5 separate regions of the Homo sapiens genome follow, and regions 1, 2, 3 and 5 are each linked to region 4. Evidence: fine-mapped expression QTL. A gene starts in region 4. Each other region holds a variant in brackets. All regions are shown on one strand. Distances are between the middles of the regions. Region 1 overlaps TMC5 (transmembrane channel like 5). Region 2 overlaps TMC5 (transmembrane channel like 5). Region 3 overlaps LOC105371114 (a long non-coding RNA gene). Region 4 holds the start of GDE1 (glycerophosphodiester phosphodiesterase 1). Region 5 holds the start of TMC5-AS1 (TMC5 antisense RNA 1).

Evidence for each region. PIP is the estimated chance that this variant, and not a neighbour inherited with it, causes the effect.
Region 1: its variant is fine-mapped to the expression of GDE1 in whole blood (INTERVAL, PIP above 0.99).
Region 2: its variant is fine-mapped to the expression of GDE1 in whole blood (TOPMed, PIP above 0.99).
Region 3: its variant is fine-mapped to the expression of GDE1 in whole blood (TOPMed, PIP above 0.99).
Region 5: its variant is fine-mapped to the expression of GDE1 in lung (TOPMed, PIP above 0.99).

What each region holds. Positions count from the first base shown.
Region 1 is chr16:19,441,926-19,447,028 of GRCh38, reverse strand. TMC5 (transmembrane channel like 5) reads right to left here. Exons shown (of 22, transcript NM_001261841.2): 4 at 2,779-2,948. Among named protein-coding and RNA genes, the nearest start is that of TMC5, 27 kb to the right of the region's middle. The variant C/A (reference allele first, on the strand shown) is at 2,652.
Region 2 is chr16:19,493,998-19,499,100 of GRCh38, reverse strand. It overlaps TMC5 (transmembrane channel like 5), which reads right to left. Exons shown (of 22, transcript NM_001261841.2): 20 at 4,735-4,839; 21 at 1,938-1,980; 22 at 1-1,181. The coding sequence ends at 1,135. It also overlaps the pseudogene RNU4-46P. Among named protein-coding and RNA genes, the nearest start is that of TMC5-AS1, 8.6 kb to the right of the region's middle. RefSeq lists a silencer at 2,380-2,591. The variant A/G (reference allele first, on the strand shown) is at 2,945.
Region 3 is chr16:19,381,529-19,386,631 of GRCh38, reverse strand. The region is part of intron 1 of LOC105371114 (a long non-coding RNA gene); the gene reads left to right. Among named protein-coding and RNA genes, the nearest start is that of TMC5, 34 kb to the left of the region's middle. The variant G/A (reference allele first, on the strand shown) is at 2,635.
Region 4 is chr16:19,519,475-19,524,577 of GRCh38, reverse strand. GDE1 (glycerophosphodiester phosphodiesterase 1) reads left to right here and starts at 2,480. Exons shown (of 6, transcript NM_016641.4): 1 at 2,480-2,874. The coding sequence starts at 2,614. CCP110 (centriolar coiled-coil protein 110) reads right to left here and starts at 636. Exons shown (of 14, transcript NM_001323572.2): 1 at 490-636. RefSeq lists a silencer at 2,519-2,688 and enhancers at 2,799-2,968, 2,279-3,013, 3,139-3,198.
Region 5 is chr16:19,487,648-19,492,750 of GRCh38, reverse strand. TMC5 (transmembrane channel like 5) reads right to left here. Exons shown (of 22, transcript NM_001261841.2): 18 at 2,183-2,356; 19 at 523-601. It overlaps TMC5-AS1 (TMC5 antisense RNA 1), which reads left to right and starts at 4,850. Exons shown (of 3, transcript XR_007065016.1): 1 at 4,850-4,927. RefSeq lists an enhancer at 4,055-4,743. The variant T/G (reference allele first, on the strand shown) is at 2,542.

The DNA.
Region 1 (5,103 bases), 78 kb after region 4:
TTGTTGTTATTAACTCAGTTAATATTTTTCAGGCACCTACTGTGGGCCAGGCACTGTGACACTAGGAAGAGCACCTAGAGCCTTGGAGGGTACATAGATGAATACAGGTTCTCCTTAAGGAGTGAACACTTTATCAGGATGGGGTGACACTGGACAAGTGATTGCCAAGGGCTGCAAACTTTGCCCTACAAAAGATCCCAGAGAAGTGAGCTATACTGACCTGCTTTTTTTGTTTTTTAAGTATTTTATCTTCCAATGTTCTATAGAGCTTTGTGGTCAGGAATCTGTTTGTATTTGCCCTGATTCAACCTAGCAGTAATGCAGGGTAAATAAGAGGTCAGGTTTTGGGTAGAGAGACGGGATTCAATCCTGGCTCTGTCAATTTAGTAAGTGAGTGACCTTGTGCATATTTCTTTCTAAGTCTTAGTTTTCCCATCTGTTAAAACAGGGAGAGTGGCAGTGCCTGCCTGAAAGGCAGTTGTACAGATTAAATGAGATAATAAAAGTCAAGTGCTGGACAGAGACTCCAGGGCATAGGAAACACTCAAGATTTGCTTGCAGTTATACGTTCCACTTGCACTGGAGTAGCACAGTATGTCTCAATCTTGTTTCATTATCAGCCCCTTAAGCAGGGGAGACATTTTTTCCTCATTGCCGTCCTCTAAGAAGTTTTAATACCAAAGATATACTGTATCCGTTTGTGTACTACATGTGTATCCCTGCTTTATACATCAAGAGTGAGATTTTTTTCTGGCCTTTCAAGAGCAGATATTCCCCCCTTGGGATTTCTATTGCCCCTGTGGAGGAATGCTTGGAATAAAGGTTTGGAATAGCCCTGGGCTATCTGATGTCTGTGCTCCCAAAGGAATATTCTCTTTTCTTTTTCCTTCCTTCCTCCCTTCCTTCCTTCCTTCCCTCTCTCCCCCTCCACCTCCCCCCAACTCTTCCCCTCCCCTCCCCTCCCCTCCACTCCCTTCCTTTCCTGTCCTGTCCTGTCCGGTCCTTTCTTTTTTTGCGACAGGGTCTCGCTTTGTCACTCAGGCCAGAGTGCAGTGGTACAGTCATGGCTCACGGCAGCCTCAACCTCCCAGGCTCAAGTGATCCTCCTGTGTCAATCTCCCAAGTAGCTGGGACCCCAGGTGTGTGCCACCACGCCCAGCTAATTTTTAAAATTAGGCCCGGAATGAAAATTTTCTATGTGTTAACAGTCAGTGTTTTCATTAGTACATGGCTATGCATCCTGTCCCCTCCTCTCTGCCTTCTTCCAGACCTGCCCCATCTACTCCTCAAGGCTCATCAATCCTCCATCTGCACCTCCCAGCACTTGGGTCTCTTGTTCTCTTCTTATTGGCTGAACACCTTCTCCCTTTTCTGACTTCCACAGGTTCCAAATTCCTTTAACATGGCCTGGATTTTTTTTTTCTCTTGTGCCATCAAACGGCTTCCTGGAACATGTCTCTTTTTCCTCCTAGAAAGTAAGAACTGTTCAGAATTGGCCCAGGCTCAAGCCTGTAATCCCAGCACTTTGGGAGGCCGAGACTGGAGGATTGCTTGAAGCCAGGAGTTCAAGGCCAGCCCAGGCAACATAGCAAGACCCCATCTTTCTCAAGCATAAAAAAAGTGCCAGGCATGGTGGCATGCAACTGTAGTCCCTGCTACTGGGTAGGCTGAGGTGGGAGGATTGCTTGAGCCTAGGAGTTTGAGGCTGCAGTGAGCTATGATCAGCCTGGGTGACAGAGCAGGACACTGTCTTAAAAAAAAAAAAAACTGTTTAGAATTTCCTTTGCCTCCTGGAGCTAAGCATCTTATCTATACACACAACAAATTATGAGGACAACATGATTTTTCAAATATTAATAGTTTGCTTGCTAACTTTCTTTAGTCTTTTTTTTGTTTGTTTTTAACAGAGTCTCGCTCTACTGCCCAGGCTGGAGTACAGTGGTGCGATCTTGGCTCACTGCAACCTCCGCCTCCTGGGTTCAAGTGATTCTTCTGCCTTAGCCTCCCGAGTATGGCATTACAGGTGCCCTCCACTATGCCTGGCTAATTTTTGTATTTTTAGTAGAGACGGGGTTTCACCATGTTGGCCAGGCTGGTCTCGAACTCCTGACCTCAGGTGATCTGCCCGCCTCGACCTCCCAAGTGCTGGGATTACAGGCGTGAGCCACCACACCCAGCCTTTTCTTTAGTCTTGATGTGGCACTTTTGTTGACCTATTTAGGCTTTAAATAACATGAGGGCAGAGCTACCTCTTAACTCCCTTTTCCCCCAGTAGGTTCTGAACACATACGTGCTGATTGCCTGAATGCCTTTAGGATATGCTAAACTACAGGTGGCCACTGGCAGCTAACAAAAAATGTGGTTTTGTTTGCCCAGCTCACTGTTTTTACTTTTAAAAATTATTTTGGAACAGATCAACATCAGGTTTCACATAAAACCCCAAATACACGGCTTCTGAAAAATATGAAGATCTTGCCACATTGAGCCCACATTGCCACATAACCACCATGGACTGAGCTTCACCAACTCTGGTAGGAACAGAGTGCACAGGTCCCCATTTTCCACAACTCTTACCTAGCATTTTTTTTATAATTGATGACAATTAACTTGGCTTCTCTAAACACTGAATTCTCAACTTTTGTATGTAAAAA[C/A]AAGGGTCTCTGAGATTGGAAGGATACACCAATTCTCCTATTGCCAAGTCTCCTTAATGATTGCACCCCTAAATCCAGTGATTTCAGTTTTTTCCCAGGATATGATCCTGGCTTAACAAATGCTTACCATAGCCACTTCCAGGAGCACCTGGCAGAGAGTGGCCATATGAGTTTGCCATCTCCATGGATGCCATTTCAATGCCTTCAGGGTAATCATTCTCTCCCCAAAGACTGCCCACGGGGTCATCACTCCTGTGACGAAATGAGGGCTGGATTGAAGATGTTCTGCTGAGCACCCTAAAATCCAAAATGATGGATCACTATCCAACCAAGAGTATAGTAAGGATTGTCATCCATCCATCCATCCATCCATCCATCCATTCAATCATGTATTCATCCATTTATTTATCCATCCATTTATCCATCCATCCATCCATCCATCCATGTATCCATCCATTCAATCATGTATTTATCCATCCATTTATCCATCCATCCATCCATTCATCCATCCATTGATTCATCTGTTCATCCATCCATCCATGTACCCATCCATTCATTCATGTATTCATCCATCCATTTATCCATCCATCCATTTACCATCCATCCATCCAACCATACATACATTCATCCATCCATCTATCCGTCCATGTATTCATCTATCCATCCATGTATCCATCCATTCATTAATGTATTCATCCATCCATCCATTCCATTCCATTCCACAAATGCAGACTAAATGCCAACCCTGAGTTAGGCATGGGCTAGAAGGTGAGAATACAAAGAGGAAAACATGGGGTACCTGCCCTCAAGAAGCTCACAGTACAAGTTGGTACAGCTTCTTAGACACAGCTATGAGCAATTATACTACAAGTAGAAACTGGTGAGTATCTGAAGACAGGCCCAAGGAGTTCGGAGGAAAGATAATTCTTGCTGAGAGTTTTGGGAGAAATCTGCATGGAAAAGATACATCTGAGCAGGGATTGAGAAGACACATTCATACATAAAGGGAGGGCATTCCAAGGATGAAGAACAGCATAAAAAAAGGTGTGAGGCCAGAAAGTGCTGAATATATAAAGGAAATGCTATGAAAATCAACTGATGAGTAATGATTCTCAATTTACTACATATACCACTTCCCAAGCCTTGTCCTGGAGAATTGAATCAGAAGTTCTGAAGGTTTGACTGAGGCATCTGTATTATTTTTAAAGTTCCCCAGATAACTGGGTAATGCTAAGGATCAGCCAAAGTCAAGAACCACTGACCTAGAGTATAAGGTCAAGGCAGGGGGCAGACAGGAGACTTAAGAGGAGATCAGTCAGGCTGGTCTTTGGCTGGCATCTTACATTAACACGACGTATCCTTATTCATAAACATTCTATAAGTGAAGTTGGGTGGCCTTTCTCCAAAGGTTATGGGGACCCATGGACGATGAAAAGCAAAGGAGTGATAGGATCAAAGGTGGGCTTTGGAATGATGAATCAGGCAGTGGGTGATAAGACCAAGGAGGACATTTTCACCTGGTCCTGTTAACCCTACTATTTGGGTTCTAAAGACATCAGGACTGCTGCACGCCCAAGTCCTATATCCTTGTTCCTAGAGATAAATACAAGCCACCAGTTTTTTATCAAATTCATAAATATTACTAGTAGAAACAGTAAATGCAAAATCAAACTCATATTGGTTACAACTTCACATGACAAACATTGTTACTGATTAAACCACAAACTGACTTTAAAAAATCACATCTTAGACTGGGCACAGTGGCTCATGCCTGTAATCCCAGCATTTTGAGAGGCCGAGGCAAGCAGATCATTTGAGGTCAGTAGCTCAAGACCAGCCTGGCCAACATGGTGAAACCCTGTCTGTACTAAAACTACAAAAACTAGCTGGGCATGGTGGTGCATGCCTGTAATCCCAGCTACTTGGGAGGCTGAGGCAGGAGAATCACTTGAACCTAAGAGATGGAGGTTGCAGTGAGCCAAAACTGAGCCACTGCACTCCAACCTGGATGACAGAGTGAGACGCTGTCTCAAAAAAAAAAAAAAAAAAAAATTACATTTTGTTGGCAACGTGAACATGAAAAATCTTAACCCAGGAAAAATTAGATTTGGTAGAACTAAGTAACCCAGACTAATGCTGTCGGTGTCCAGAACTGCATTTGGTAAAATTTGTCAAGGAACAAAAATTGACAGAAGATCAAAATCTTTTAGACAAAATTTAGATCTACAGAATCTAAACCTGGAAAAACTGGACTTGCTACTTAAAAATGGCCTTAGGCCAGGTGCAGTGGCTCACGCCTGTAATCCCAGCACTTTGGGAGGCTGAGGCAGGTGGATCACCTCAGATTGGGAGTTTGAGACCAGCCTGACCAACGTGGAGAAACCCTGTCTCTACTAAAGATACAAAATTAGCTGGGCGTGGTGGCGCATGCCTGTAATCCCAGCTACTCAGG
Region 2 (5,103 bases), 25 kb after region 4:
AGACTTTTAATTTACTTTATTTATTTATTTATTTATTTTTTTGAGGCAGAGTCTCACTGTTGCCCAGGCTGGAATGCAGTGGTACAATCTCGCCTCACTGCAACCTCTGCCTCCCAGGTTCAAGCAATTCTCCTGCCTCAGCCTCCCGAGTAGCTGGGATTATAGGCATGTACCACCACGCCCAGCTAGTTTTTTTATTTTTAGTAGAGACGGGGTTTCACCATGTTGGCCAGGCTGGTCTTGAACTCCTGACATTAAGTGATCCGCTTGCCTCAGCCTCCCAAAGTGCCGGGATTACAGGCATAAGCCATCGCACCCAGCTAATTTCTTTTCTTTTCTTTTTTCTTATTCAGTCTCCGTAGAGACTGTCAAAAATTGCCAGCGCTGATTATATTTCAAGTCATCACGGTGGGGTATTGGGAAAATTTCCAATTAGCAATAATCGCGTCTCGGATAAATCTCATTGGCTACGGTACTGCCACTGCAAAGCTAGCTTGACGTAGGACTTTGATGGTCATGTATAACACCTCACAGGGGCAGAACCTCCTCCATCCCCGACTCCAAAGACTCATGTAATCAGTACGCAAGAAAGTTCAGAGATGAGACCTCTGGTTGTATTCCACCTTTGGGACATGGGGGATGTCTTTAGTTCAAAGTCACAAATAAATGCAGGTTCTACAATTCAGAGGCTTCATATCCCTGCTGGAGTATTACATGTTTATTCAGGATGGACCACTTTTCTTAGCAACAGTTTCTAAACCTTTGCCAGGTCTGGGAAGTCTGGCAGGAGAGATTTCTAAGAACCAATCATTCCTGCACACACTTCTTGAAGATAATATACATTATTCCCTAGTTATCTCTTCCTAGGTTTTTGTAGGCTCATTTCAATATTACAACAATCTTTATTGGAAAACCCCAAGTATTTTGTCTTGAAAAATCAGCAATCCAGGTATTAAAAATAGCATGGAATGCCCAATTTTACTTTGATAATTACATGGTAGTCAGTTTCCGCTCCTGGCTAAAGCCTTGGATTTTCTTCTGGGCAGTTCCTAAAGGCACAGGTGGCATGGAAGAAATCATTCCATTTTCGTCTCCTCCCCTTATTTGATTGGTGTCTGGTTACCAAAAGAGTCATCAGGCCCTTGGATTACCTTCTTGAACTGATCTTCTAGATCGCAAGTCTAGGTTTGACACAGGAAAGAGAAGTTAACGCAGGCACACTCTGCCCCATCTCTACAAGGGAAAGACCAGCTTGCCTTCAAGATTCCATAGCTTCTCATGCCTTCTTTGCCTCTTCCTTTTAGTTTCTATAATCCTTCCCTTGAACTCCCATCACTGGAAGTCATCAGTAAATGCTATCCCCCAAAAATAAATGGGTTTGCTTGTTTGTTTCCTGCCCAGAATTCGCTCTCCTGGCATCAGCCCCAGATTTTCTTTAGGAAGTCACCCTTCCCTACTCTTGGTCCCTATGGTCTTCATGGTTGCACCACCTGCATCTACAGATGAAATCATGTGATCAAGGGAACTGCCACATTTTTGCACCCACAACAATTGGTTCATAGACGGGGACATCACCCAGTCAGATCCTATGAAACACCGTGAGAATCCTGGGTCCCTCAGTCTTTCCCACCAGACTGACTCTGAGAAGATATAAGAAGTTGATAAAGCTGTCTTGCACTTATTAGGCAGAGTCTATTGCAAAAGGAACTAACATGGGTAAGAACGGAACTGAAAGAAACCGGGTTCTGGTGACACTGTGAGTTCCTGCGTTAGGCAAGGCCTAAAGCAAGAATTATTCTTGGAATTTTGTTTAAGCCAGTTTGGATCCAATTTGCAACTGAAAAAGTAATGGACACATGAGCAATTCTTACACTTGTCTTAGGATATTTCACCAGAAATAAATTAGTGTCTTATTCTGTCCCAGTTTAATTACTCACCAAGACTGCCATCATGTTCCCCCAAATGCAAAAAGCCTTGTTGCTGAAAAAGAAAAAAACAAGCAGCCACGTCACGGAGGAAGAATGCAGATTCTGGGTCTTGTCACATATTTGGCACAATTTGTGAGCCCCTCACCATTTTATAGAAGTTAAGGGATGAGAGATTAAGGCCAAGTCTCCGCCATAGAAATATTGAACATGTTTTGTTTTTTAGGGAGAGTGATTCCATTCATTCATTCCACAGATACTCTTTTTTTTTTTTTTTTTTTTTTTTTTGACAGAGTCTTGCTTTATCTCCTAGACTGGAGTGGAATGGCATGATCTCGGCTCACTGCAACCTCCGCCTCTCGGGTTCCAGCGATTTTCCCGCCTCAGCCTCTGGAGTAGCTGGGATTATAGGTGCCTGCCACCACGCCCAGCTAATTTTTTTTTTTTATTTTTAGTAGAGACAGGGTTTCACCATGTTGGTCAGGCCGGTCTCAAACTCCTGACCTCAAGTGATCTGTCCACCTCGGCCTCCCAAAGTGCTGGGATTACAGGCGTGAGCCACCGCACCTGGCCGTTCCACAGATATTCACTGAGCATTCATATTATGCCAGGTAATAAATTAGGACGTGGGGTGACAAGTGCACAGACGTGGTCCTCACCTTCAGAGAATCTACCTTTAGGCCTCTAGATCCCTTACCTAAATTGTGCTGACAGTATAAATTTGCACAGATGGTAAATTACTTGTCAGTCACTTCTGTCAAGATCACAATTTCCAACATAAGTGGTATTTGCGTTAAGGTGGATTTACTGTTCATCTGTATTTTCAGGACACTCAGGAAGCAAGCAAGGCTTTGGAATTAGAGCAGGGTTTCATGTATCTTTATATTCTCTTGGTAAGAATGAAATTGATTAAATCTTTTTAAGGGAATGATATAGCAATATCTATTAACATTGTCATGTACGTGCTTTGTGGCAGAAATATTCACAAAAAATAACTTTTTAATTTTTTTTTTTTTTTG[A/G]CACGGAGTCTTGCACTGTTGCCCAGGCTGGAGTGCAATGGTGTGACCTTGGCTCACTGCAATCTCCACCTCCTGGGTCCAAGTGATTTCCTGTGCTTCAGCCTCCCAAGTAGCTGGGATTACAGATGTGCACCACAACACCCAGCTAAGTTTTCTTGTTTGTTTGTTTTTGTTTTTTATATTTTTACTAGAGATGGGTTTCACCATGTTTGCTGGGCTGGTCTCGAACCCCTGACCTCAAGTGATAAGCCCGCCTCGGCCTCCCAAAGTGCTGGGGATCACAGGAGGGAGCCACTGTGCCCAGGGTAATTTTTTTTAGAGAGAGGGTCTTGTTCTGTCTCCCAAGCTGGAGTGCGGTGATGGGATCATAGCTCACTGTAGCCTCAAACTCCTGGGTTTGAGCAGTCCTCTCACCTCAGCTTCCTGAGTAGCTGAGGCTACAGTTGCATGCCACCGTGCCTAATTATTAAAATTTTTTAAGGGATGGGGTCTCGCTATGTTGGTCTTAAACTCCTGGCCTCAAGCAGTCCTCCCCTCCCACCTCAGCCTCCTGAGTAGCTGCGATTATAAACGCACAAAAAATAATTGTAACAAAATGTTTCATTACCTACTGTTTTAAGTATTTAAAAACATAGAAACAACCCAAATATCCAAATATGTACAGAATTAAACATCGTTCAAGATATAGTATTTAGTGGTGGGCTGCGGGGGAGGGAAGTTATGATACTATTTGTATAATATAGCCTCACTTTTGTAATAAACAAGTAAATTAAAGTGTTGGTAGATACAGGTATGTTTGCAGATGCCTAGGGAAATAGATTTGCAAGAATAGACACTGAAGTAGGCCGGGCGCGGTGGCTCACGCCTGTAATCCCAGCACTTTGGGAGGCCGAGGCGGGCGGATCACGAGGTCAGGAGATCGAGACCATCCCGGCTAAAACGGTGAAACCCCGTCTCTACTAAAAATACAAAAAATTAGCCGGGCGTAGTGGCGGGCGCCTGTAGTCCCAGCTACTTGGGAGGCTGAGGCAGGAGAATGGCGTGAACCCGGGAGGCGGAGCTTGCAGTGCGCCGAGATCCCGCCACTGCACTCCAGCCTGGGCGACAGAGCGAGACTCCGTCTCAAAAAAAAAAAAAAAAAAAAAGAATAGACACTGAAGTATTCATAGTGAGATGAGATTTCAGGGCCCTTTTCATCTCAGTGGGATCTACTTCTGTATTATCGGGGTTGTGAAAAACAAGCGTGCAAGTTCCATGAGGGCGGGGGCTTTGTTTTGTTCACCGTAACCCCAGCACCTAGAAAAAGTACAGGCATGAAAAGTGCTGAAAAAATGAATATTACTTTTTTTTGAGACAGAGTGCCACTCTGTCACCTAGGCTGGAGTGCAGTGGCATGATTTTGGCTCACCGCAACCTCCACCTCCTGGGTTCAAGCAATTCTTCTGCCTCAGCCTCCCAAGTAGCTGGGGCTACAGGTGCGTGCCACCACACCCAGCTAACTTTTGTATTTTTAGTAGAGACAGGGTTTCACCATATTGGCCAGGCTGGTCTCAAACTCCTGACCTCTTGATCCACCCGCGTAGGCCTCCCAAAGTGCTGGGATTACAGGCGTGAGCCACTGCACCTGGCCATGAATATTACTTTTTAAGTAAAAACCACAGAAATACTTAAGACAGAGAGTGAAGGGCCCTTCCATGATCCCAAGAGCTTGGTCTGTAGTTCTCTGACGCGCTTTTTACATGGAGGCAAGCTCGTGTCCCAGGGGTCCCCAAGGCAGCCTCCAGACTCACCTCCACCTCTCTCCTTTCCAGAACAAGTGAGCTGGGGTTTGCTTTCTTCTCCATATCCTGCAGCTTGATCAATTTTTCTATCAGGAACATTTTATCTTTGCCCTCCTACCAAGAAGGAAAACAAAACCAGAAAGAAACAAAAATATGAATGAATGATGGTATGGAATTGAGAAAGCAATTGATGGGAAGAACGTCGGTTTTCAGGCAGCTAGGATCCTAGAAGTTGGATGGAGGTTACTGCCATCTTTTGGTGAAAGAAAAGAAACATTTCACAGTAAAACCAAATTATCCCCCAGAGCCTTCCTGCACTGTAATATTCTCCTCTAAAGCAATTCCCCTAACAGGCTTGAGAAAGTAGCCTCCAGAAGT
Region 3 (5,103 bases), 140 kb after region 4:
AAGCCCAGTGCATTCATCTGTTCTCACACTGCTATAAAGACATACCTGAGACTGGCTAATTTATAAAGAAAAGAGGTTTAATTGGCTCACAGTTCCACAGTCTGTACAGGATGCATGGCTGGGGAGGCCTCAGGAAACTTACAATCATGGCAGAAGGCAAAGGGGAAGCAGGCACATCTGCATGGCAGGAGAAGGAGGAGGAGAGAGGCTTAGGGGAAGTGCTACACACTTTTAAACAAGAAGATCTCAGGAGAACTCTGTCACAAGACACCACTAGAAGGATGATGATAAACCATTAGAAACCACCCCCATGATCCAATCATCTCCCACCAGGCCCCACTTCCAACACTGGGGATTACAATTCAGTATGAGATTTGGATGGGAACACAGAGCCATCACCCAGGAACCACAAAGTGAAGCTACCTGGCATGGGCATTGATGCTGTGGTCTGAAGCATGCCATCTTATTCTTCAGTGATGAAGAAGGAACCCTGCTGTTTGTATAAGAAGGAAAATAATTTTTAAAGGTTACATTCTGTCCAATCAGCAAAGGATGCATTTAAATGTTCAAATCCTACTTCTGACTACATTGGGCTTGGCAGTAATACTCCAGCAATATTTGAAGATCCTGGACTTTTCCATGCTGTTTTGTTTTATTTTATTTTATTTTTATTATTGTTAGAGACAGGGTCTCACTCTGTCATCCAGGCTGGAGTGCAGTAGTGTGATCACAGCTCACTGCAACCTCCACCTCCTGGGTTCAAGAGATTCTCCTGCCTCAGCCTCCTGAGTAGCTCGGGTTACAGTTGTGTGCCATCGCACCCAGATAATTTTCGCATGTTTAGTAGAGACAGGGTTTTGCCATGTTGGCCAGGCTAGTCTCAAACTCCTGGCCTCAAACGATCCTCTTGCCTCAGCCTCCCAAAATGTTGATTACGGGCATGAGCCACCATACCCGGCCTATACTGTAATGTTTTAAATGAGTATTTTTATTCCTTCCTCCATCTTTTATTCTGAAAATTTTCAAACCAACAAAAATTTGCAAGAACAGTACAATAGACAACCACATTCCTTTTATGTAAGTTCACTAATTGTTCACATTTTACCAGACTTGCTTCTTCCTACTTCTCTCTGAGCCATATGAGAGTTAATTACAGACTTTTTGAAACTGCATTCCTGTATTCGTTTCTTGTGACTGCTGCAACAAATTATCATACATTTGTTGGCTAATTCACAAAGCTCCACCATAAATCACATTGCTAAATTATCTGATGTCACCCAAGGATCCAGGTAAATAAAGATGTCCATCTCAGGGGCTTAGAGATCACCCCCCAGGAGCTGGAGGCAAAGGGATAGACCTCTCTGTGAGTAAAGTAATTCTTCACTACATAGTAATGTTCACACTTTTTTTTTTAGATTAGGGTCTGAAATCTTCGGGAGACATCTTTTAGCCTACCTCAATCCCAGCTACTTTTCTAGGTACCTCCTGAGAACAAAGACATCCTCCTAAATGGTCGTCTTCTATTCCTTCAAACAGGAGATTTAAGAGACTGTTGTTTCCTGAAGAACTATCCAATTTCTATTCCTGTAAAATTGTTCCTCTTCTGGGAGTGGGAAGTCTCCTTCAGGAACCTGGTTCATTCTTCTGCTCCTGGAAGAAAAAAACTGAGGTCTCCCTGGCTCAGGTGCAGATCCAAGTCAGGGCCAGGTGCCAGGTGCCAGGTGCCAGGTGCAGCCAGCAGGAAGTGCTGGGTCTTCTCTCTAAGGTCACTGCACAGTCACCACTCGCCTCCATCACATTCCATCTTCCATACGTGGAACAACTGGGTTCCACCCATCCCTTTCCAGATCTGCAGGCTGGGACTGGGGGTGGGGAGGTGGCCTCCAGTAAGGAAGGGAAGAGGGAGGAATTGTCTCACAATAGAAATAGCCATCATTTCCTGACACTTCCTCTGTGCCACAGACTTAAAGATCATTTTTTAAAATTTGAGCATGTATTAGTAATATGTCTATTTAGTAAAAAAAAGGGGTAATCAGTAAAATTTTCCCTGCCCTTGTCCTGAGATGTATGATGCATTTACAAACATATACACATATATTCTTGGTTTTTTAACCCCAAAGGTGGCTTACCTGGCATCTTGTTTTGTTTTGTTTTGTTTTGTTTTGTTTTTGAGACAGTGTCTCACTCTGTCACCCATGCTGGAGTGCAGTGTCATGAGCATGGCTCACTGTAACCTTGAAATCCTGGGCTTAGCAATCCTCCTTCCTTAGACTCCTGAGTAGCCAGGACTGCAAGCATGTGCCACCATCCCTGGCTAATTTTTACTTTTTTATTGTTTGTAGAGATGGGTGTCTTGCTATGTTGCCCAGGCTGGTCTTAAACTCCTGGACTCAGACGAACCTCCTGCCTCAGCCTCCAAAAATTCTGGGGTTATAGGCATGAGCCACTATGTCTAGCTTCCACCTTGCTTTTTCACTTCATAATATACCTTCTATAGGCTGGGCGCAGTGGCTCACACCTGTAATCCCAGCACTTTGGGAGGCCGAGGCCAACGAATCACGAGGTCAGGAGATCGAGACCATGCTGGCTAACATGGTGAAACCCCGTCTCTACCAAAAATACAAAAAATTAGCC[G/A]GTGTGGTGGCGGGCGCCTGTAGTCCCAGCTACTCGGGAGGCTGAGGCAGGAGAATGGCGTGAACTCCGTAGGTGGAGCTTGCAGAGAGCCGAGATTGCGCCACTGCACTCCAGCCTGTGCGACAGAGACTCCATCTCAGAATATTAATAATAATAATAATAAACCTTCTATAAATATAATTTTCTATATATCTACATATAGAGGTAATTGCTGCACAGATGTGTCAAAATTTATTTAATCCATCTCCTATCGATGGAAATATAGGCTGCCTCTAGGCAATTGTTCTTGCCACAGCCCTGAGACCTAAGCTCTAGTCTTATATCCTCATTTTATGGATGAGAAAACAGGCTCAGAAAGGTTGTGGCATGTGGTCCAGCTCACACAGGAAATAATCGGAAACCAGGTTCTCATCCAGTGACCTTACCCTTAACCACAATGAAAATAGCTTTTATTTTGAGCCAGGAAATTACTTACCCACACACATAATTTTCTGTTTTAGAACAGTTTTAGATCTACAGAAAACCTTTGAGGATAAGATAGAGACTGCGGCCCGCAGTCCACCACGGTAGGGCCATGGGGAGTGCTCATAGGGAAGGTGTTCCTGGCATCCGAGGGTGCACGGAGGGAGCCGGGTGCTATAAGCTGTGCCCGGTCACTGCCGCCTCCCACCCTCAGCGCCGGGTGCTCCCAGCTCTGGGGGATAGCAGGTGGTAAGGGTATCTTCCTTATTCCTGCTCCCTCCTCCAAAGTGTCCTCATCCAACCCAGACGGAGCCAGCCGACATCTCAGCTAGCCTCTCAGCCAGACTCTCAGCCAGCCAGCCTCTCACTCAGCCAGGAAGACTGCCCGCTAGCCTCTCGACCAGCTTCTCAGCCAGCCCACCAGCATCTCAGCGGGCCAGCCAGCCTGCTGGCAAGCCTCCAAGACAGCCACTCGGCCAGCCTCCCAGCCTACCCCTCACCCAGCCTCCCAGTCAGCCACTTAGCCGGCCAGCCATTTAAGACTGAGCCCAATCTCTCTCCCATTGCAAAATTTCATTACTATGTTCCCTATACCTATCATGATGGTCCTGAAAAATCTGCCTTACCGTATTTTAACATGTGCCATTGAATAATTTTTTCTTCTACAGAGGTAGATGCTATTATTAGAATCACTTTATAGAGGAGGATAAAGAAGTACAGAGAGTACTGTCTCAGATTCCCTGTCTCAGGTGCCCGGGCTCATGTACAGTCTCAGGTGCACTGCCTCTCTCTTTAGCCAGCTGGTTCCCCAGCCAACGGTGCACCCTAAATCCCCAGGGAATGACAAAGTTGAGAGATTGGGTGAGGCTCAAATGCCATGGATGTTTTTAGTTATGAAGAGCTCAAGTCATCTCTAAACCTCCCAAAAGCCAGGGGTAGTCATTTCACAGAGCAACCAGTATGGTCCTTGAGGTCCCTCAGGCATGAACCTGGCTGTTGACTCTGGGTCTATTATAGAAATTCCAGATGAGAACTCCACTTTCAAGGGCAAGCACCAAGCCCTCACTGCCACTGGTAAGCCCTCTGTTCTTATCAGCAAGCTGTGAGATTATGCAGTTTTTGTGTTTGTTCTCCTTGTGGTAGATGATTTCAAATTACATGAGAATAATTTATGACCAATTTGGGTTGCATTATTCAATCAGGATTGCAGGGGTGGCAGAATCACCAGGTCAGCTCAGGCTTTGGGTATTTCTTTTTTCCTTTTCTTTCTTTTCTTTTTTTTTTTTAAGACATGGTCTTGCTCAGTCTCCCAGGCTGGAGTGCAGTGGCATGCTCATGGCCCACTGCAGCCTCCACCTCCTGGGCTCAAGCAATCCTGCTACCTCAGCCTCCCTAGTACCTGGGACTACAGGTGTGCACCACCATGACTGGCTAATGTTTGTTTTTAGTAGAGACAGGGTTTCACCATGTTCCCAGGCTGGTTTTGAACTCCTGGGCTCAAGCGATACACCTGCCTCGGCCTCCCAAAGTGCAGGTGTGAGCCACCATGCCAGGTGGGTATTTTCATTAAAAAAGGCAAAAGCCCTTGCTGATGGGAGCTGCATCAACTAAAACATGAATTCACCATAATTGGTGATTTTTGCCCCCTGAATCCTAGTCATAGTCCAAGTGAAATAGCAAGACACAAACAGGGGCATTGGCCAACAGCCTAGTTCTGAAGGAGATGGAGCAGATGTGGACACGTGGAGTCAGGCTTCCAGAAGTCATCAGGTGGATGTGTGAAGTCAGGCTTCCAAGGCAGCTCACGCGCATGGCTGTTGGCTGGGGGCCTCAGTTTCTCACCACACTGATATTCCCACAGGGTTGCTTCAGCGTCCTCACAACAGGATGGCTGACTTCCCCAAGAGAGCAGCTCAAGAGAGAGCAAGGAGAAAGACACAACATCTTTAATGATCTATGCTTGGAAGCTATATGTTGCCACTTTTGCAATATCCTACAGATCGCTTA
Region 4 (5,103 bases):
CCCAGAGTGGCAAAGGCGAAGTAAGCAGCGCTCCTAGGGCCTTGGTTGTGGAAACAGGGGCTCATAAATGGCCAATGCACACCCCGGGGAAGCCTCCCTCTCCAGCACCGTGGGAGGGAGAAGAAAAACGGCCCAAACAATTTGATCACCACGATGGGGTTCTCCGGCTCTGGCCCGAGTTTTATTCACCAGGGACGGCCCCCTGCCCTCTCCCCAGCGCCCCATGCCCACCTCCTCCAGCTCCTCCGATTTAAGACTCCAAACCGAGGGCCCTCCAGGCGGGGCCAGCATCGGAGCATCACCTCAGCGCCCGGTGCTGGCTGCCCCCGGGGTCCCGCCTCCCAACAGCCGGCGCCTTTCCAGGGGGCTCGAGGCCCGGGAGCCCAGCACAGAGCCCGCCCTCAGCTTCTCAGGGCGCCAATTTCGCCTCGCCAGACCACCTCTCAGCCCGGACCCGTCAAGGCTCAAGCCCCCTCCTCATGCACACACCTGATCCCCCACGGCCCCTTCAGCTCCTCTCCCCTCGCCACGGGCCTTGTCAGGAAGCGAATGGCTCAAATGGTACTGACAGAGCGCAGCTCGGTCCGCCGCCGCCTTCTCCTCCTCCTCCCCGCCATATTACGGATCTCAGGCTGCAACGCGGGCTCCTGGCAACCGCCGCCGCTGCCACCCCGACTCCACCTCTCAGGGCCGGCACTTCCGGTGGTTGATTCCCGGGCTGTTAAAACCGTTGGGCCACCAGAACACTACCATCCCCGAGGTGCATTGCGCGCCCGCGATGGAGGACGTAATGCTTACGGCCAGCACGCTGCACGCCGGGAAACGTAGTCTTCCTTGCAAGCTAGAGACTAGAATTTATTAATAAATTTACTTATTTAGTAGAATAGGAACACCCCTCAGGGTCTGAAGCCCCCTGAAGTGTTCCTTGAAGTTGCCATTTTTTTCTTATCTGTATAAAGATAACCCCTTTCTATGCAGCCGTTAGAAAACATGTAACATTCACCAAAATATTTTCTTGTAGGTAAAAACTTGCTGAACCCACCGGGCGTGATGGCTTACGCCTATAATTCCAACATTTTGGAAGCCGAGGCGGAAGGATCGCTTGAGCCCAGGAGTTCGAGATCAGCCTGGGCAACAAAGGGAGACGGCATCTCTACAAAAATTTTAAACGTTAGCCGGGTGGGGTGGCGCGAGCCTGTGATCCCAGCTACTCGGGAGGCTGAGGTCGGAAGATCGCTTGAGCCCAGGAGGTCGACGTTGCAGTGAGCCATGATTGCACCACTGCATTCCAACCTGGGCGATAGAGTGAGACTGTCTGAAAGAAAAAAAAAAAAAGGCTGAATCCTAGATGCCAACTGGAAGGCTTAAGACATCTATCCCCTTTTGCAAATCAGTGGGAAAATGCACTAAAGGAAAAAAAGGTAACAGAAAAATCCCTGAATATTTTTGCAAAGTTCTCTACATAAAAATGTTACCAGCCCTCCAAAATATGTCCAGGGGCCCCTTTTCACTCCCTAACTCGGCTTCATGGTCTATCTCTCTTACCCTCCTTCCAGTGCCTGTTTTTGCATATGTAAAATGGGGGTTTTAAAAGTGCCTATCACAAGGGTGGTTGTGAGGCACAGTTGAGGTAACTCCTGTACAGTGCCTGGTACAAAAGCCCTTAGCAGAAGTAAGATTAGGGGGAGGAGGAGTGAAAATGTCACAAATCACTGGGGAGGCCTTTATGTCAGTCCCCACCCTGCCATTAACTGCTTAATTCACCTATCCTCAGTTTCCGCATCTATGAAATAAGGGAATCCTTAAAACCCCTTCCAGTTTTATAATCCGATTGTGCCTTCTTTGCTAGGCTCTTCCAGTCCCCCAGAATCTGGAAAATAAAGTCGATTGAAATCAGTCTCCTGATAGTAACTGTTAGGCTGTATTGAGAATGAGATAAGCATATAAAGTGTTTGCTCGTCAAGTACCTGGGACATGGTAAGTGCTCTGTAAACGTTAGGTGTACTTGCTAACTTTTATTTCCTCCCACAAGAATGTGAATCCCATAAGAGCAAAAACCCTGTAGGTCCTGTTCAACTGTGTCCGGAGCACCTGGACCGGTATTTGGCACATCTTGAATTGAACTGAACTGAACTGAATTGAATTGAATTGAATTGATAGTCTAAGCATCCTGCCTCTCCAGGTTCCCTGGAATTCAGTTTCCTCAAGGGCAGATAAAGGAGTCACTAAAATCCCTTCCAGTCCTACAGCTTTAGGATGGTTCTTATCCCTCCTTTTCTCGCCTAGGAGTCTGAACGCCCAGGTTGAAGTTCAGACCTCGGAAAACCCTAACCCACCTTAGATTTGGAACGTGAGCCTGGGGCCTGGGGCCTGGGCCCTCCCCCGTTGCCATGGAGCGGCTCCGCCCACTGGCGCTGCGAATCCCGATCCCTGATTGGCTGGGCGGCCGACTCCCTCTCTGGATGTGTCTGCTGCCGCCATTGTGCGGCGCTGGTCCCCTCAGAGGGTTCCTGCTGCTGCCGGTGCCTTGGACCCTCCCCCTCGCTTCTCGTTCTACTGCCCCAGGAGCCCGGCGGGTCCGGGACTCCCGTCCGTGCCGGTGCGGGCGCCGGCATGTGGCTGTGGGAGGACCAGGGCGGCCTCCTGGGCCCTTTCTCCTTCCTGCTGCTAGTGCTGCTGCTGGTGACGCGGAGCCCGGTCAATGCCTGCCTCCTCACCGGCAGCCTCTTCGTTCTACTGCGCGTCTTCAGCTTTGAGCCGGTGCCCTCTTGCAGGGCCCTGCAGGTGCTCAAGCCCCGGGACCGCATTTCTGCCATCGCCCACCGTGGCGGCAGCCACGACGCGCCCGAGAACACGCTGGCGGCCATTCGGCAGGTGAGACCCCCACGTTCGCGCCCCTCGGTCCTCCCGAGAGCTCGGACTTCTACTTTTCCTTCCCAGGGTTCCCCGATCTTCTCAGGACGGCCTTCCCACTTCCTCATTCGTCCACAAGGCACACTCCCGGCCCTTGATCGCTCCCAGTGTCTAGGGATCTCCGGACTTGAGGTTTTATATTTACAGAAGACAGCAGATATGTATATAGTTTCTGTGCGCCTGACGCTAAGGTTACATACAGCCAGGAACAAGGTCAAAAGTGTCCCTGGTTTACAGAGTGTACATCGGAATGGGGGAGGCAAGCCTTAAACAAGTAAACACATAAATGAGATAACTTTAAGAGAGTGAAAGGTGCAATGAAGAAATCGGGGGAACTCGAAGGAAAGAGTTACGCTATTTTATTTAGATGGAATAGTCAAGAGAAATCGTCTCCGAAGAAGCAACATTTGAACAGAAACCGGAATTATAAGGAGCCAGGCAGGTGCAGAAGGTCCTGAGATGGGAATAATATAGGGGTGTTCAGGTAACAGAAGAGGCAGTGTGTGGCCTGACTTCAAGGAAGAGAACAAAGACTGGTGTGTGAATGAAGTAGAAAATGGGTCAGGTCAAATAGGTTCTTGGTCAGTAATTGAGGTTAGTCTAAATAGATCACCCTTCACAAGACATACGTTTGCTTGTCTTGTAAATCACTTGAGTCATTTCCTTATCACCTTTTCCCCAGACACACACATTCGCACTCGCACAACCCTGGCAGCTGGACTCACATCAGTTTCTGCCCCCTCCTTTTCACAAGGCACTCCTGAAACTTTTGATACCTCCCAGCTCTTGGCATTCTCCTAGCTTCATAATAATGACAGCTTACAGAGAGGGCTTTTCAGTGGATTAGGCACTTTTGCATCTGTGTAAATATATCTGATTCTCTTCTTTTTTATTTTTCTCTCTCTTCTTCCTTCCTTCTTCTTCTTTTTTTTTTTTTTACTTTACAGAGTCTCACTCTTTTACCCAGGCTGGAGGGCAGTGGTGCAATCTCCACGCACTGCAACCCCTGCCTCCCGTGTTCAAGCGATTCTCGTGCCTCAGCCTCCGGAGTAGCTGGGATTACAGGCGTGTGCCACCACGCCCAGCTAATTTTTGTATTTTTAGTAGAGATGGGGTTCTGCTATGTTGGCCAGACTGGTCTCAAACTCCTGGCCTCAAAGTGATCCACCCGCCTCGGCCTCCCAAGGTACTAGGATTACAGGCATGAGCCATCATGCCTGGCCTCCCTCATTTCCTTTTTTTTTCTTTTTTTTTTTCTTTTTTTTTAAACGAAGTCTCACTGTCTCCCAGGCTACAGTGCATCGGCGCAACCCCAGCTCACTGCAACCTCTGTATCCCAGGTTCAAGTGATTCTACTGCCTCAACCTCCCGAGTAGCTGCGATTACAGGCATGAGCCACCGTGCCCGGCCAAGATTTATACTTTTAAAGCTGCACTCTGGCCCATGTGGAGAATGTACTGTGGGTGTAATTTCATTCCTTTGCCACTGTTTATAGTAGTGTATCTGTTTTTGGAATACACTCAACTCACATTTATCAAGTTTTTCCTTCTATATCTCATTTATAATCTACCAGAAATTCTAGCACTGTCAGAAATGTATATATGTATGTATACATTCGACTTTACCAATAATTTTATTTATTTATTTATTTTTGAGACAGGGTCTCTCTCTGTCACCCAGGTTTGAGTGCAGTGGGGCGATCTCAACTCACTGCAACTTCCACCTCCCAGGTTGAAGCGATTCTTGTGCCTCAGGCTCCCAAGTAGCTAAGATTACAGATGTACTCCTCCACTCCCAGCTAATTTTTGTTTTTTGTTTTTAGTAGAGATGGTGTTTTGCCATGTTGGCAAGGCTGGTCTCAAACTCCTGACCTCAAGTGATCCACCTGCCTCAGTGGATTACAGAGTGCTGGGATTACAGGCAAAGTGCTGGGATCACAGGCATGAGCCACTGCCTGGCCAGCTTTACCAGTACTTCTATGTTATTCCAGTAATTGAGATAAAAAGATGAATCCCTGGTTCTAATTCACATATTAGTATATATAGGAGATATTGCAAGTTCAGTTCCAGACCTGAGTAAATAGTCAATAAAGCAAATATAGTAATAAAGGGAGTCACAAATTTTTTGGTTTCCCAGTGCATATAAAAGTTATGTTTACACTATATTGTAATCTATTAAGTATTGTGTATG
Region 5 (5,103 bases), 32 kb after region 4:
TCTAAAAAAATAAAATAAGGCTGGGTGTGATGGCTGTAATCCCAGCACTTTGGGAGGCAGGTGGATCACCTGAGGTCAGCAGTTCGAGACCAGCCTGGCCAACATGGTGAAACCCTGTCTCCACTAAAAATTCAAAAATTAGCTGGGCATGGTGGCAGGCACCTGTAATTCCAGCTACTTGGGAGGTTGGGGCAGGAGAATCGCTTGAACCCTGGAGGCAGAAGTTGCCGTGAGCCGAGATTGCACCACTGCACTCCAGCCTGGGCAACAAGAGCAAAACTCTATCTCAAAATAATAATAATAATCATCATAATTAAAATAAATAAATACTAAGAATAAAAATAAGGGATTTGCTGGGAAGAGAAAGTGTAGATGAAATAAGAATATAAAAACATTGATGGTTGTTAGGGCTGAGAGCAGGGATATGAGAGTTCATTGTAGTATTCTCTTTATTTTGGAGGATGTTTATACAGCGTTTAAAAAGGGTGAGGGCGGACATCAGAGGGATCCAAGGGGACTTACATTAATGATCTGCTCATGGAGCAGCCTTATCATAATCTTCCTTCCCTCTGTGATCTGCCAGTAAAGATAGGTGATGATTCTGGAAGAGGAGAAAAGAAAGAATGACACTCTTGCAAATGTTTTGCAGGCTCTGAATTTCCACTGGATGCAAAGGAACTGGAATCTGTGCTTGCAGATGGATTTGGCCCAAACATGTTTCTGAAAAGTCATGTCAGGGAGAGTTATAGGTTAAATACATTGGAACAATGGTTCCTGAAGGGGGAAATAAGCCCATGCCACAGCTCCTCTTCAGACCAATTAATTGAGCATCTCTGGGCATGTCATCTCCTTAAGAGGAGAAAAGCAGGTATTGCTTTCTTAATAGAATAAGTTAAAAAAAAAGTCCCTAAGATGACCCAGCACGGTGGCTCATGCCTGGAATCCCAGCACTTTGGGAGGCCAAGGCGGGCGGATCACTTGAGGTCAGGAGATCGAGATCATCCTGGCTAACACAGTGAAACCCTGTCTCTATTAAAAATGCAAAAAATTAGCTGGGCGTGGTGGTGGGTGCCTGTAGTCCCAACTACTCGGGAGGCTGAGGCAGGAGAATGGCATGAACCCAGGAGGCGGAACTTGCAGTGTGCTGAGATCGCGCCAGTGCACTCCAGCCTGGGTGACAGTGCGAGACTCTGTCTCAAAAAAAAAAAAAAAAAAAATCCCTAAGACAAGAAGATAGTATATATAACCTTTCCCCCCTTCCCCCAGTGATGGGGTCTTGCTCTGTTGCCCAGGCTGGAGTGCAGTGGCACGATCAGAGAACACTGCAGCCTCAAACTCCTAGGCTCAAGCAATCCTCCCATCTCAGCTTCCCAAGAAGCTCAGACTACAGGCACAAGCCACTGCACCAGGCTAAGTAACTTCAAAAAAACTATCAATGCAAGCTTGGGCAAGGTGGCTAACACCTGTAATCCCAACACTTTGAGAAGCTGAGGCAGGAGGATAATTTGAGGCCAGGAGTTTGAGACCAGCCTGGGCAACACAGGGAGACCCCATTTCTCCAAAAAATTTAAAAATTAGCCAAGTGTAGTGGTGCACACCTGCAAGCCCAGCTACTTGGGGGCTGAGGTGGGAGGATGGCTTGAGCCTGAAAGGTTGAGGTTGCAGCAAGCCATGACCATGCCGCTACAGTCTAGCCTGAGTGAGAGATCATGACCCTGTCTCAACCAAAAAAGAAAGAGAGAAGTAAGGAAGGAAGGAAGGAAGGAGAAGGGGAAGGGAAGGGAAGGGAGGGGAAGGGGAAAGGAAGGGAAGGGAGGGGAAGGGAGAAAGAAGGGGAAGGGAAGGGAGGGGAAGGGAGAAAGAAGGAAGGAAGGAAGGAAGAAAAAATGAAGAGGAAAGGAACGGAACTGAAAGGAAAGGGAAGGGAGAAAGGGAGAAAGAGAGGGAGGGAGGGGAAGGGAAGAGAAGAGAAAAGAAAAAAAGGAAGGGAAGGAAGGAAGGAAGGAAGGAAGGAAGGAAGGAAGGAAGGAAGGAAGGAAAGAAAACTACCTATGCAAGGGTAGAGTCACCCAGAACACTGAGCTATGCTATAGCCATTTGCTTTCCAACCAAACATCCCTACTGCTGTTTCCCTCGAGAGCTCCTGGCTTTCCCTGCTAGATTCCCCGGGTACCACACTCACAGCACAATGAGGGTGAGGATGAAAAAGAAGTGCACACTTCCAATGAGGTTCCGATAGATCCAAACAACCCACAGGTAGCCAGGCCGTGTACTTAGGGTGTCGATCCAGCTGTAGATGGAGTGAATGAAGAGAGGCAGACCTCGAAAAGGGCCACAGTCAGCTGAAGGCTTCAATCTGGTAAAACAAAGATGGAAGAACATCTCTAGCACAAGACTCAGGGATGGTTATTCTAGAATCAGGGTGTCCCTTCTGGGCTCTGGGCCTGAAAACATCAAGTCTTGCCTGATCCAATCACACCCACTTCCCAAAGAAACCCTCTTGCTCTCAGCCTTGCTGGGGTGACCTGTACTCTAAGGACC[T/G]GCTCTCAGATCAGAGCTGACCCAACAGCAGCCAATCCAAAGGCCAAGCAGTGACTTCTGCAGTAACTTGGCTCAATGATATGAATGGGGGCAGTCAGACTTTTTTTCTTAAGAAGTTGAATTAAGGCCAGGCACTATGGCTCATGCCTCTAATCCCAACAGTTTGGGAGGTCAAGGTGGGAGGATTGCTTGAGCCCAGAAGTTCAAGACCAGCCTGGGCAACATAGTGAGACTCCATCTCTACAAAAAAATAATTAGCTGGGCATGGCAGCACATGCCTGTGGTCCTGGCTACATAGGAGGCTGAGGTGGGAGGATCACTTGAGCCCAGGAGGTTGAGGCTATAGTGAGCTGTGATCACACCACTGTACTTCAGCCTGGGCAACAGAGCAAGACCCTGTCTGAAAAAAAAAAAGAAATGAAATTAAAGACAAGTATGGTGGCTCGCCTGCAATTCCAGCACTTTGAGAGGCCAAGGCAGAAGGATCTCTTGAGGCCAAGAGTTCGAGACCAGCCTAGGCAACATAGCAAGACACCCATTTCTAAAAAAAAAAAAAAAAAAAAAATTAGCCAGGCATGCCAGGCGCGGTGGCTCATGCCTGTAATCCCAGCACTTTGGGAGGCCGAGGCGGGTGGATCACAAGGTCAGGAGATCAAGACCATCCTGGCTAACACGGTGAAACCCTGTCTCTACTAAAAATACAAAAAATTAGCTGGGCGTGGTGGCGGGCGCCTGTAGTCCCAGCTACTCAGGAGGCTGAGGCAGGAGAAGGGCGTGAACCTGGGAGGCGGAGCTTGCAGTGAGCCGAGATTGCGCCACTGCACTCCAGCCTGGATGACAGAGTGAGACTCTGTCTCAAAAAAATAAAAAATAAAAAAATAATTAGCCAGGCATGGTGATGTGTGCCTATAGTCCCAGCTACTCGGGAGGCTGAGGTGGGACAATCACGTGAGCCCAGGAGTTTGAGCTGTGATTGCGCCCCTGCATTCCTGCCTGGGTGGCAGAGCAAGGCCCTGTCTCAAAGAAAGAAATTGAATTAAGAAGCATAAAGAGGGAAGCCTGTTAGCTATGGAGGAATGAGCAGAAACTATAGGGCAACAAGGAACTGGTGAGGAAGAGAGAGAAGAGAGTGGATATGCCAAGAGGAGCAAGGGCGTTGTGGAGCAAGGAAGAGAGAGAAGAGAGTGGATATGCCAAGAGGAGCAAGGGTGTTGTGGAGCAAGGAACTGAGAGCCCCAGTTTCACATGTGTCCTAAAAATCATCTCCCTTGTTCATTAATTCATTCAATTGTTCATTCAACCATGGCTTATTCTGTTAAGCACTGTTCTAGTCAGGCTCTGGGGACTTCATATTAAGCAAGTTCCTGCCCTATTGGGATTACATTCTGGTGGGAAAAACGGACAATCGTTGAGTAACAATTAAAGACTCACACAGAGGCATTCCTGATTATGAATGATAGAATGAAGGAAAGAAACTCAGGTCTGAGAGAGAGAAGCAGTGGGGAACTGAGAGCAGACAAGGAGGGCTGTGAAGATCAGATCTTGGAGAGGGCCTTGGAGCTGAGAATCAGAGGGTGGAGAGGAGGCAGCCAAGCAAAGGGAGTGGGAAAAGGACTTCACTCAGAGGACTCTGCCCTTGTTGGGAGGGGCTTGCTGGCTTCCAGGAATGGGGTGAGGGTGGTGGGGCGGGGAACAGTGGAGCCAAAGGGAAGTGGGGTTGGAGAGGTGGGAGGAGCCAGATGAGTCCTGCCTTTCTGTTAATTTAGATGAAGTTCTGTTCTGGATGTGGAGGAACGGGGTGGGGGGGCATCTCCCCATTCTGGGAAGCTTCAGTTCTTGGCAGAAGTGAGAAAGCTACTCCTGACCGTGGGCATCGGATGGGTGGTGATCAAACTAGGATGCATTCCCTCCCTGGCTTTTAGTGTCTGTTGGTTAGCCAGGGAACTTGAGTTAGGCACTGTATTAAGCATGTCTTTTTATTCTGATGTTTTGACATCTGGGGTCTTACTGACTCCAGCTCCCAGGGCTAGCTGCCCTTCCCTGGGCTAGCTTACAAAGCACACCTTTCAAATGCAAACCAACCAATCCAGATCCCACACCCGCAACCGCCCCCTTTATCAGGCTCTCACACTCTGGGCCACCACTCCCCTGCCCTAATCACCCCAGGGCCAGGTGCCAGACAACTCAGGGCGGATCCATATCCCACAGCCTACTGACAAACCAGCCAACCCTAAACCTGCTTCCCCTGCCTTGCCCATTCCTTACCATAGAAAACCACAATAAAGCCTCTAGCCCGTTTCCCCTCACTCCCTCTGCCTCCTGAACAACCCTGATGCTTCCCTGTGTGGTCCCTTGTGGCATAGAGTGCCCCCTCTTCTCAGGAACTGTGAGTAATAAACTATCTTTTTAGTGATGGTCATTCCTGACCTGTTGGGCTTCACCATACCTACATTATTTATTTATTTATTTATTTATTTATTTATTTATTTATTTATTTATTTATTTATTGAGACAGAGTCTCACTCTGTCACCCAGGCTGGAGCGCAATGGTGCAATCTTGGC